2 separate regions of the Homo sapiens genome follow, and region 1 is linked to region 2. Evidence: fine-mapped expression QTL. Tissue or cell type: whole blood. Region 2 holds a variant in brackets; the other region holds the start of a gene. All regions are shown on one strand. Distances are from middle to middle.

What was found. PIP is the estimated chance that this variant, and not a neighbour inherited with it, causes the effect.
Region 1: it holds the start of SELENOM, and the variant in region 2 is fine-mapped to the expression of SELENOM in whole blood (INTERVAL, PIP above 0.99).

The regions. Positions count from the first base shown.
Region 1 is chr22:31,106,500-31,109,179 of GRCh38, reverse strand. It overlaps SELENOM (selenoprotein M), which reads left to right and starts at 1,612. Exons shown (of 5, transcript NM_080430.4): 1 at 1,612-1,803. The coding sequence starts at 1,675. LOC105372995 (a long non-coding RNA gene) reads left to right here. Exons shown (of 3, transcript XR_938163.3): 2 at 1,077-1,109; 3 at 1,294-1,544. LOC124905100 (a long non-coding RNA gene) reads right to left here and starts at 1,298. Exons shown (of 2, transcript XR_007068063.1): 1 at 1,072-1,298. RefSeq lists an enhancer at 2,156-2,680.
Region 2 is chr22:31,047,906-31,050,585 of GRCh38, reverse strand. No RefSeq gene overlaps it. Among named protein-coding and RNA genes, the nearest start is that of SMTN, 32 kb to the left of the region's middle. The variant T/C (reference allele first, on the strand shown) is at 1,402.

The DNA of each region.
Region 1 (2,680 bases), 59 kb before region 2:
AGGTGGAGGTTGCAGTGAGCTGAGATCGTGCCACTGCACTCCAGCCTGGCTGACAGAGCAAGACTCTGTCTCAAAAAAACAAACAAACAAAAAAACAAAAAAAAATGGGCCAGGCGCAGTGGCTCACACCTGTTATCCCAGCACTTTGGGAGGCTGAGACGGGCGGATCATGAGATCAGGAGATCAAGAACATCCTGGCTAACACAGTGAAACCCCATCTCTACTAAAAATACAAAAAAATTAGCTGGGCGTGGTGGCGCGTGCCTGTAGTCCCAGCTACTCGGGAGGCTGAGGCAGGAGAATTGCTTGAACCCGGGAGGCGGAGGTTGCAGTGAGCCGAGATCAGGCCACTGAACTCCAGCCTGGGCAACAGAGCGAGACTCCGTCTCAAAAAAAAAAAGAAAGAAAGAAAGAACAAAGCTAGAGGACCAACACACAACCAGATGTCAAGTCTGACTATAAAGCTATAGTTAATAAGACAGCGTAGTTAGACAAACCCACTGAAGGACTAGAATAGGGTATGATATTCAGAAGTAGACTCCCATATATTTATATGGTTACCTATTTATTTATTTATTTATTTTTGAGACAGTCTCTGTCGCCCAGGCTGGAGTGCAGTGGTAGGATGTCGGCTCATTGCAAACTCTGCCTCCCAGGTTGAAGTGATTCTCCTGCCTCAGCCTCCCAAGTAGCTAGGATTACAGGCGCCCACACCACGCCCAGCTAATTTTTGTATTTTTAGTAGCGATGGGGTTTCACCATGTTGGCCAGGCTGGCCTCGAACTTCTGACCTCAAGTGATCTACCCACCTCGGCCTCCCAAAGTGCTGGGATTACAGGTGTGAGCCACCACGCCCGGCCGTGGTTGCCTATTTATATATAACAGAGGTAACGCGGCAGAGTAGCAATGAAAAAGACAAGATTTTTAATTGAATTGGATAGCCACATTAAAAAAAAAAGTAAATCCTGACTCCATAAATTTAACCCAGCTGATTTAAGACCCTGTTGTGGCCTATCAGCTGTAACCCTCCTTGCATTTTCCCACCTTTGAATAGCAAATTCCTTTCCTCACCCCAGGTCAGAAAGTCTGCTCAGCAGTAGCTGTGGATGGTAAGAAGACACGCTGGTAGGTCTCAGTGGCTCCCAGAAGCCGCACCCCCTCCACCGAACCTCACTCCTCATCTCCCACGCTCCAAAGCGAGGAGTCCTCAGAAAGCCAGTTTCCCTTATTTATTCTTCTTTCTTTCTTTCCTTTTTTTTTCTTGGATGTCCTACCAGTTTCCCTATCTTAAAGTCGCAGGTTCGGCTCAGAAACTCCAGTGTCCCTCAGCGTCTCGCCGGCACCCTCTGCCGGCGTGAGGTGGCGCTGCCTGGCCGCATCCTGGGGGAGCGTCCACATCCTCGGTCGACAAAAGGAGCGTCGACACTCTCGGACCTGGGAAAGTGACGGCCCAAACGCCAGGGAGGAGCCAGGACCTCGCCCTGAGCTAGCGGGAGGTAACGGCGGGGAGTCCTGGGGCGGAGACCGAGCGCTGGGGGCGTGGTCTCCAGCGGGACTGGGCCTCTAGCGGGAGTGGGGGCGGGGGCGGGGGCGGGGCCAGCCTGGGGGCCCAGACGTGGCGCAGCGACTCGGAGGTTCGCCTCCAGCTTGCGCATCATCTGCGGCCGGGTCCCGATGAGCCTCCTGTTGCCTCCGCTGGCGCTGCTGCTGCTTCTCGCGGCGCTTGTGGCCCCAGCCACAGCCGCCACTGCCTACCGGCCGGACTGGAACCGTCTGAGCGGCCTAACCCGCGCCCGGGTAGAGGTGAGTACGCCGGCCTCCAGCCCCGGCACTATCGTTCCCCAACCCTGCGGCCCCATGGGAGCACCGTCCGTCCCGGCCCCAAGACCACCTCGAACCGCGAGTCTCCCTGCTTTCCCCCTGGCGCCGGGACCATCCCTCCTGTTCCCTAGCCCCAGATGGCCCCAGCATCCACCGTGGAAGCCTGAGACACCGACTTTGGGGCCTGGAACTCCGAACCCTTCCCCAGCTCCCCCTACCCGGTCCGACAGCGGACACCCAGACACACTGACGCAGTCTCCTAACTCTTCTCGTGGCCTATGACTCCCAATCCTGTCCCAACTTCCCATCCCCCATCACTTCATGTTTTCCTGGAATTCCCCCCCGACCCGGTTCCAGGGCTGGAGGCTCCAGAAAGTCTCTTTTCCTTCTCCTGGGGGGAAAGAAGACTTTCTGGGTGCCTCCTCCCATATGCAGGATCCGGGGAAGGGGGCCAACTCGGAGGGGCAACCGAGTTGGGAACTTGGTTGCCAACATTTACTCTGCAGCAGCCTCCCATCCTCCCCCAACCAGGAAATTCCCGTTCGGAGTCCCTGTCTTGCTATGTGACTTTGACCATCACAGCCCGCCTCTGAGCTTTTTGTCAGCTCTGTCTGACAAAAGGGTGTAGAATGGTTGGGTGCCGGTGGTGCACGCCTGTAATCCCAGCACTTTGGGAGGCCAAGGCAGGAGGATTGCTTGAGCCCAGGAGTTCAAGACCAGCTTGGGGGACATAGTGAGACCCTGTCTCTAAGAAAAGGGCTGAGGGTAGGATGGAGGAGGGCTGGAGTGGGTGGTCCTGGGGTCTAGACTCCTGCTGGATGGTGGCATCTCCTCAGGGAAGGCAGGGAGGAGCCCTCCC
Region 2 (2,680 bases):
CTGTAGTCGCAGCTACTCCGGAGGCTGAGGCAGGAGAATCACTTAAACCTGGGAGGTGGAGGTTGTACCAAGCGGAGATCGTGGAGACAGAGCAGGCCCCTGTCTCAAAAAAACAAAACAAAACAAAACCCCAAAAAACAAAAAAACCTGGGCAGAAATCAACTCAGAGATTCTGAGCCAGAACTACCTAATTAAGCCATTCCCAATACCTGACCCACAGAAAGTCTGAGATAGTAATCCCAGCCTCCCAAAATGCTGGGATTACAGGCATGAGCCATTGCACAAAGTCAGAATGTAGCAATTCTAAGATACCCTACAGCACATTTATTCTGTTATCTCTGTACTTCACAGATGGGAATCTAAGGCCCAAGGGTGGGGAAGGCACAGCCTAGAATAGTACAGGAGACCAGTGGCAGAGTGGAGATTAGAATCCAGAACTTTGAACTTTCCCTTTCTCCAGGCTGTGAGGAAGGCAGTGTGGATTCCCTTGGACCACCCAAACATTTCCTTTCAGGAGGAGGCGATTCTTGACCCAGTGCTGCTACCAGCTCCCCCTGGGTCAGGAAGCTCTGCCTGCCCAGGATTTCCTGTGTGTGGGAAAGAAACAGGATGAGTAGATAAATCCCCCAAGGCTTTTTTTCCCCAAGTGCGTGAGGTCCTCTCCCTGGTAAGTCTGCAGCAGTTCTAGCCAAGATGACCAACCCATCGACATGTATTTTGTGTGTTTATAAACAGTAATAAAAAGAATGATTGGCAAGGCACAGTGGCTCTCACCTGTGACCTCAGTATTTTGGAAGGCCAAGGTGGGCTGATCGCTTGAGCCCAGGAGTTTGAGACCAGTGTGGGCAACACAGTGAGACCCCATCTCTACAAAAAATTAGCCAGGTATGGTGGCACACGCCTGTAGTCCCAGGTACTTGAAAGGCCGAGATGGGAGGATTGCTTTAGCCCAGGAAGTTGAGGCTTCAGTGAGCCGAGATCACACCACTGCACTCCAGCCTGGACAACAGAGCGAGACCCTGTCTCAAAAAAAAAAAAAAAAAAAAAAGAACGATTGCATGTGCATGAAGCACAAGACAGGAGGTAGGGGAGAAGAGTCCACATCACCGTCCCTTGTCCCTGCCCTTGTGGAGCTGCCTTTGTTTGGGTCCTCCCAGAAGCAGGTCTTAAGAGAAGTATTTAAGTTCAAGTAATCTGTCTGGGAGGTGATCCCAGGGAATCCCCTGCAGGGGAGTGGGGAGGTGAGATGGGGAAAGGAAAGCAGCCAATAAATTCAATAAATGAATTGAAAGCACACTTCGATAGGCAACTGGAGTTCAACCCCACTAGGGAAAGCTCAGAGACAGTCATCCCAACCAAGGAGCAAGAGGCAGCTGGAGTATCTAGCCACCAACTTCTCAT[T/C]CTTCACTGGTTGAGGGATGCTTCTGGAACTCAGCCTTCCCGCTTGCCAGAGGACAGGCCCAAGTGTGCTCCTGAGGTCAGAACAACACAGTCAAGCAGTTACATTCACAGTAAGAAGCCTTTGATGGGTAGAGGTATCATCAGGGGCCTCTGGGCGGTATCTGCTCCAGAGGCTGACCACTAATGAGTTTTCCATCCACAGGAAAAGGCAGAAGGAGGCCCAGGAGACATGCCTTCCCCTCCCTGGGTGGGGTTATGGAGGCCGTGTGGAGTGCATAGTGGGCCTTTTGCCTGTTCAGGCCCCCATCACCCCTTTCTTCTCATTTTGAGGAATCACCTTACCCCACTGTGGTCCACATCGTCCTCTTCAACACTGTACTAGACCACATTTCCCAGCCTCCCTTGCTGTTAGGGGAGCCATGTGACTGATTCCAGCCAATGAAATGTGAGCAGAAGGGACATGTGCTGTTTTCAGACTTGGTCCATAAATACCAACCACTCACTTCCTTTCGCTTTTTCTCTCTTTTTAACTTTTTTGGAGACAGGGTCCCACTCTGTTACCCAGGCTGGAGTGCAGTGGCGTGATCATGGCTCACTGCAGCCTTCACCTCCTGGGCTCAAGTGATCATCCCAGGTTCAAGCAATCCTCCAGCCTCAGCCTCTTGAGTAGCTAGGACAACAGGTATACACCACCACACCTGGCTAATTTTTTTATTCTTTATTTTTTTTGTAGAGACAAGGTCCCACTATGTTTCTTAGGCTGGTCTCGAACTCCTGTGCTCCAGCAATCCTCCTGCCTTGGCCTTCCAAATAGCTGTGATTATAAGTGTGAGCCACTGTGCCTGTCTCGCTTTTTGGAATGTCTTCAATGGTGCTTTGGAGGAAGAAAACATCATGTGAATGACTACACAAATCACTATTGTCAGTTGGGAGTTAGCTCTGAGAGGAAAAGTTTAGGGTGTCTTGAGCACTTTGACTTGAGATCCAGCAGAGGAAGTCATGGGCAAAGGCCCTGAAGCAGGAAGGAGGAGTCTGAAGTGGGCCATGGTGACTGGAGGTTATGAACAAAGCTGAATGGCCTGAGAGGAAGGCACATGATCTTGATGTAAAACTCATAGGTGTGTGTATTAGTCTGTTTTCACGCTGCTGATAAAGACATACCAAGACTGGGAATAAAAAGAGGTTTAATTGGACTTACAGTTCCACATGGCTGGGGAGGCCTCACAATCATGGCGGAAGGCAAAAGGCACTTCATACATGGTGGCGGCAAGAGGGATGA